2 linked regions of the Homo sapiens genome follow. The protein of the gene in region 2 purifies or fractionates together with the protein of the main gene of each other region. This does not show direct contact. Each region holds a gene or a part of one and is shown on either strand. Other genes may lie near its edges.

What was found.
Region 1: the proteins of CHD5 (region 2) and TRPS1 purify together in Homo sapiens (co-immunoprecipitation; one large-scale study listed by IntAct). This does not show direct contact.

Annotation. Positions count from the first base shown.
Region 1 is NC_000008.11:115,417,454-115,421,273, forward strand, and holds part of TRPS1 (zinc finger transcription factor Trps1), read right to left. Parts: intron 1,000-3,820; coding exon 877-999; intron 1-876. UniProt on the Homo sapiens protein: Transcriptional repressor. Binds specifically to GATA sequences and represses expression of GATA-regulated genes at selected sites and stages in vertebrate development. Regulates chondrocyte proliferation and differentiation.
Region 2 is NC_000001.11:6,104,193-6,107,529, forward strand, and holds part of CHD5 (chromodomain-helicase-DNA-binding protein 5), read right to left. Parts: intron 2,588-3,337; coding exon 2,424-2,587; intron 2,318-2,423; coding exon 2,203-2,317; intron 2,096-2,202; coding exon 2,088-2,095; 3' UTR 2,042-2,087; intron 1,236-2,041; 3' UTR 1-1,235. UniProt on the Homo sapiens protein: ATP-dependent chromatin-remodeling factor that binds DNA through histones and regulates gene transcription. May specifically recognize and bind trimethylated 'Lys-27' (H3K27me3) and non-methylated 'Lys-4' of histone H3.

The sequences.
Region 1 (3,820 bases), on a different chromosome or scaffold from region 2:
ACGCCAAACGAAATGAAAAAGGCACAGGGAAATAAATTTTTGTTTACTAAATGGGGGATGCCTATTTTAAAGTCAGCTCTTGTCAGCAGATGAACTTGCTAAACTAAAAAAAAAAATCCTTCAGTAAGTCAAATCCATATTCAGATGGAGGATTTGTGAGTTTTAATTTTATTACAGAATTCTAACTAAAATTTGAGGAAAAGTAATTCAAAGAACCTCCGTGAGCCAAAGCCAGCTGGAGATCTTAAAAGACAAAGTATCTTTGCACCTTACTCTACCCTGGTGTGTGTGCTATTCAGAACTTCAGATACCTCATTGAAATACCCACTGAAGGCCCTGGGGAGATTCATGTGATATTCTCTGATCCTAATTCAGTTCAGAACTGTCCTTCCGAATGTGCCCCTCCAGCCCCTAAAGCGGTCAAGATAACACTTGTGAATTCCGAAGGTAAACTAGAAAACACGAATTCTTTCCCTGACTTATATTTTATACTGAACATGACCGAGTCCTTTTTCATTTTTTAAAACGTTTTGCATATTTCTGAAACTTCTAAAAATTTTCTCCTTTTTACCTAAAATAATTTCATTGAATTCTGATAACCATTAGTTCAACTATCTGCTGTGAAGTTCCCAGAAATCAATCATTTTCCTCTTTTATATCAAAAGAAGCATAATGCATTACTAATGACCTCAAACCTATCTCCCCATCACATCTAAGCCCCCTTCACCATAAATCACATGTGCACTCAAAGTGACTGTATTAAAACAACCCTGCGGGGGCAGGCACTGCAAGCCAGGGAATGGGACTTATCACACCACAGACCAGGCCAACACTGCTTTATAAAGCTTTTCCTGAAAGAGTGGAACAAGTTCTTACCGAGTGAAGCTTCTGGTAGAGGCCACACGCGTTGCATACATATCCGCCATTTGCATTCTTTCGCCAGAGAGAGGTCTTTGTGGTCAGGCAATTGGCACAAAAAACACCGGAGCCTCTACGCCTCTGAAACAGGGGAAAAAAACCAAGGTCAGAGGTGAGTCACATGATCAGTGGAGTTAGACCAAATCAACCCAGGAGTTTTGTCTTTAAACTAGCAACAATGACAGTATAAAACCACACTGCCCATAATGAGGTCAGGTTCAATTGTGTTTAATAGGCACCACTGATTTTCATTATAATTAACCCTACAGTGATGGATGAGGTGTGTGGAACACCAAAGGCTTTTCACAGAAACAGCTTTAACTTTTTGAACTTTGGGTTTTATGGCTTTAATGATGGCTCCTAAATGCTGAACCCTAAAATATACCTTTTAAAAGTGTCAAAACATACGTCAAAAAGACAGAACATGGCAATATGTTTAATACACTTTGGAAAGGAGGAGCACATGCTACCTGAGCTTTAAAATATAGTCAAGTTTGGAATAAATGTAAATCATTTAAAATTAAACTTGATTTGTGTGTTTTTGTATGTCATTCATGTAACGTAAGTATTACGAGAATATAAGACACTCAATTCTGGTCTTTCGTTTGCAATTGTAAAATCTGAAAGATTCCTCTATTCCTCAAACGTGAGAGGGTTTGTAGAAACTTCAGCCAATTAAAAGTACAGTATTACTAATGAGAACCCTTATGAGGTGCCCACTTAAGTTAGGCAACATAGACCCTTCAATGGCTATTTATTTATTTTATTTGACTTAGACTTGGAAATCACAAGGGTTTCCAAATACAAATTGATTCTAGTGGCCTGAGTTTTGTAATCAACAGGTTAAAAATAACCTAAGAATATTTAAAACTAGATAATTAGTATTGCTTGTTCCATTCTTGCTATCAAGTAATGATTCCATTAAACTTCTCACTTAAACAAAAGTCAGGCTGTGTTTGTAGGCACAAATACTAACAGGCAGGAAATGGAATTCTCTTGCTGAAAAAAAAAAAGAAAAAAAAAGACAGCCTGAATTGCAGTTCAGCTCTCCTTTCTCTAGGAAGCAAAGCCTTTAATGATAAAATATGCGTGTTAGATAAGGAGTGGAAAAAGTCTTGCTGGAACCTAATTTTATTATAAATTAAATATTACATGTGCCATAAGTCAAAATTTCAGGGATTCATAAAATTTAGGCAATTTATTTAACTCAAGTCCATACTGTAGAAGAGTGGTATCCCTGCCAAGAAAATACAATGGTTATAATTGTACTCTGATACATTTCAAATGGAAAGCTTTCTGCAGACATAATTTTGGCTTCAAGACTGGAACACTTTCTTGGCATTGAAAGGGCATTTGATTCATCGGGTGTTTCACAATGTATCACTAAAAAGACCTGGTGAGCAGCCAGTTCCCTATAGGGTAATTTTTCCATCCAGATGCAAGTGCTATCAGAGGCTCTCGTCAGCTAAACTAATTATGATCTTGCAATTGCTGATGCCTGCTCACTCTAACATTCGACATCCTCCATTAATCATCAATACAAGGAAAATGAATGAAACGTAAAGAAATGAGGGCTGGTAAGCTGCACAGCCATAAAAATCTGAAATGAGAGCAATAACTTAACAAGATTGGGGGAATGTTTTTAGTGAGCACAAAGTCAGGCTAACAATTGCCCTTTTAAACCAAGAACACGATTTCATTAGTGTAGCAGGTTGTGCTACTTTAGGTGATGTAATAAAAACTAGATTTCCAAAGATAATCTCTGGCTCCCCTTTTTCTACTTCCCCCCACCCGACTCTGGACCAGGAATGTATCATGAGTTTCTAAGTCTCAATAACATTGCAATAGCAAATGTTGGGTGTCAGTCTGCAAGTCCCAGTGAAGGCCTACTGCAAAAGTGGACTGCTGCTTCCCCCAAAATCAATGAACTATTAGAAGTTGTGTTTATCAAACATTTTGGGGACTCCCTTTGTGCAAAGTAAGCTGGGAGCCTAGTTAAGTTATAATTGTGAAACTTTCCTGGGGCTATCCTGTCATTTTCCTAGATCTAAATAACATGTTTGCAAATAAACACCAACTTGGTCCACACAAGGGCAATGTAAATGTCCATTTGGAAATTAACCCACATATATGGCTGAGGCTCAAATGTGAATGTGTAACCATTCACTCCAGCCTGCTGTTCTTTCCTTATGCCCTGGGTGCTTGACACACCATGCCAAAGTGGGTGTAATCCTGATTTCAGTGAGTGTTTCAACCCTTGCACAATTTGGTGCTTAATTCTCTTGCAAAGAAAATGCCTTTCATTAGTTAGAGGGAAAATCCTGAAATTACAGCACTAGTTTCCAAAAGCATAGCTTGCTTTAAAAGGAGCACTTAGACTCCAATATAGTTTGCTATATTTTAGGTAAACCATATCACATTTTAAATATATCAGGAGTACTTTGAATACACTTATTCAGAGTCAGTAGAGCTTGGAGGTTAATAATCAGATTTAGGTGCCAGAACACTGATATTCAAAACCTGTCTCTGTCATTTGCCAGGTACAACACTGGGCAAGTCACTTAATCTTTCAATGCTTAAAGTTCTCTGATCTTTACAGTGTGAGCTACTGTGATTCTTTTTTTTTTTTTTTTGAGACAGAGTCTCACTCACCCAGGCTGGAGTGCAATGGCACACGATCTTGGCTCACTGCAACCTCCACCTCCCGGGTTCAAGCAATTCTCCTGCCTCAGCCTCCCGAGTAGCTGGGATTACAGGCATGCGCCACCATGACCGGCTAATTTTCTATTTTTTAGTAGAGATGGGGTTTCTCTGTGTTGGTCAGGCTGGTCTCAAACTCCCAATCTCAAGTGATCTGCCCGCCTCGGCCTCCCAAAGTGCTGGGATTACAGGCATAAGCCAC
Region 2 (3,337 bases):
GGGTGGGATTCCAACAACCCACATGTGGGAAGATGGTTTTGGGATGTCAGGGCGCTCCTGGCAGGAAACAAGGCAGCAAGCCCTTGGTGCTGCGGCTGGGAGGGGTCTGCAGAGGGCACTGGGTCCAGTCCCCCTCCAGGCAGAACTCTCCCCACGCCTTCCAAGAGTGCAGCCTCAGGCAAAAAGCCCCCGGGAAGGCCTTTCCAGGGACAGGGGAATGGGACAAGTCCAGGCCCCCAGGGGCAGCCCGGTTCCACCTCCGGAGGTGGGCAGGGTAGGCATCCCAGGGCACAGGGCAGGGCCAGGGTCTCCTGGGCCAGCTCAGGGCCCATGACCCTCCTTGCTGGGGCGCAGCTATCACTGCCCTTAACCACACCTCTGGCAGAAGGCAAACCCAACGCAGCAGTGGCTCCGAGGCAAGTGCTGCCCCCCCCCCAGCCCACCCTCCCTGGGATCATACGCTTCTGCCTGCTGTGAAGAGCCGGGGCCACAGGCCCCCCACTGGTAACAGAGTCCAGGGCCTTCAAGATGCGCTGGGCCGGGGACAGACACCTGCTGGCAGAGGATCCACCTCCCCACAAGGAGAGAGCAAACACCTGGCGGCCTCCAGCCTTGGCAGGAAGGAGGGGAAATGTCAGCCAGGGTCTCACCATAGGGCTGGACAGCGGCTCCCCAAACCTGCCCTGTCTGGTGCTGGGAGGCTCCAAGCGGGCAGGGGGCCAAATCAGAAGGGGCTGTCACACAGGTGCAGACAGGTCAGGTAGGGGACACTGAGGGCTCCTAGGGCACCGGGCGCCATGTCCTCCCCAGCTGGGCTGAGTCCACAGGGCAGTGCCAGGACTACCTTGGGTCTGGAACCCATCGGTAAAGAGACATCAGTGCTGCAGGTTCGAATCTTCCATACGTCATCCAACTTTTATCAAGACAAACGTGTTCAAGTCTTCAATAGGAAAGTGCAAAAGATGTACAAATAAATGAAATCTCTTCTAAGAAGTCGTCTGGAAAAGGTGGCGAGGGGGCACGTCCGGCGTGGTTGTGGGGGCAACGCTGTGTGGAAGAACACTTGAATTATGATGAGGTGGCACTTCTGGGCTCTGGCCCAGCTGAGCTGGGCCTCGTCCTCCATGTGATGGCATTACTAGGTTTCCCTTTTTGTCCCAAGGTGGCGCTGGCTCCTAAAAAGGTGGCAGCTTTTCTCTCCCATGTGGGTCGGGCAGGTGGCCCGGCAGGCGTGGCTGCAAAACGCAAATCAGTGGGTTAAGCAGGTGGGCAGTTATAGGGGGCATCAGGGTGGCACCCAACAGCCTGTAGCTGCTTCTCCACCTATCACAACCAACTATGATCGGGGTGCCCCCCAGCCATGACCTCCCAGCCACAGGCTGCCGGGCCAGGCCATGAGCTACACCCAGAGTGCCGAGAGCACCCAGGAAGCAGCAGTGGGCAGGGGCAGCCAGCCAGGAAGCCCCTCTGGAGCCTCCTCCAGCAAGACACGGTTCCCACAGGGACAGACACAGCGTAGTGGAGGCTGGTGGCCCCAGAGAAGACCAGAATGAACTGGCAGTTTCTCTGAAATAAGCCCCCTCTCCTGGCCAATAGCCCCCACAAAACCCTCAGCCACCCTCCTGGTCCTGGGCAGGAAGTGAGGGTGTAAGACAAGATGTGATGTCTGCCACCAGCAGGACAGCAGGGGCAGGACAGGGCTCCAGGCGGGGGCAGCAGTCTCTGACTTCCGCTGGGAACATGTGTGCAAATGAGAACACATGTGCACACACAGGAGCTCACCCAAGTCCACCGACCCCTTCATGTCCTGCCACCCCAGCCTCCCAGTGGACAGACACGCTGGCCACAAGGTGGTCCCAGGGCCAAGGGGGCAAGGTAGAGGGGCTCCAGGCAGGTGGGTGGCTCTCAAAGCCGCCGGAGGCAGTAAAAGCTCCAGGACTTAGGGACGGGAGTCAAGTGCAGGGGCAGGGCTGACTGTGGCCAGGCCTGGTTTGCCAGCAATGGGGTGGCGGGGAGGAACACAGCACCCAGCAGCCCTCACCTCAGCTGGAAATGAGCGCTGCAACACAGGGAAGTCTCGAGGACGGCTAGATATCTGTCAAAAAAAGAGGAGAGCCGGGCTTGCCTGACGTTGGCAGCAGCAGGCAGGCCGGGCCCGGCGGGCACCCGTGTGCATGCTGCCCGGAGCGGACGGGCACCTACCGGTCACATAGGGCCCCAGGGGCATCTGGTTGTAGTTGACAATCCCTCCCGGTCCAGGGCCCCGGAAGTTGGGCCCAAAGTTGTTGCTGTACATCTGGGAGGAGCCGAAAGCGCCCTGGAGGCAAGGACTCAGCTTCACAGGTGGTCTCAGGCCCCCCACCCAGCCTCCACCCAGGGGCACGCCAGGGGGCTCGGGCCGGGGCACACAGGCCGAGCCTGACCTGCTGGATGGTGGGGTCCCCGGCGCGGTTGGTCAGGCGGCTCAGGATGCTGCGCTCCGACATCTGCAGCCGGGCGGCCACCGGGGGGATGCGGGACAGCATGGATGGCAGCCGGGTCACGTCGGCCTTCATGTCGCTCAGCAGCTCCTCCAGCTGGTTCAGGACTGTGGTGGGAGGCGGAGGGATGGTAGGATGCAGGGATGGAGGGGTGGAGGGATGGAGGAGTGGAAGGATGGAGGGATGGAGGGGTGGAGGGGTGGAGGGGTGGAGCAGTGGAAGGATGGAGGGATGGAAGGATGGAGGGATGGAGGGGTGGAGGGGTGGAGGGATGGAGGAGAGGAGGGGTGGAGGGGTGGAAGGATGGAGGGGTGGAAGGATGGAGGGATGATGGAGGGATGATGGAGGGATAATGGAGGGAAGATGGAGGGATGGAGGAATGATGGAGCGATGGAAGGATGATGGAGGGGTGGAAGGACGGACGAATGGAGGGGTGGAAGGACGGAGGGATGGAGGGATAATGTAGGGATAATGGAGCGAAGATGGAGGGATGGAGGGAAGGTGGAGGGATGGGGGAAGATGGAGGGATGGAGGGATGATGGAGGGATGGAGGGATGATGGAGGGATGGAGGGATAATGAAGGGATGATGGAGAGATGGAGGGATGATGGTGGGATGGCGGAGTGGAGAGATGGAGGGATGATGAAAGGATGATGGTTGGATGTTGGAGGGATGGAGGGATAATGAAGGAATGATGGAGAGATGGAGGGATGATGGAGGAATGGAGGGGTGGAGAAATGGAGGGATGGAGGGATGATGGAGGAATGAAGGGATGAGGGAGGGATAATGGAGGGATGGAGGGATGATGAAGGGATGATGGATAGATGGAGGGACGATGGAGGGATGGAGCGGTGGAGA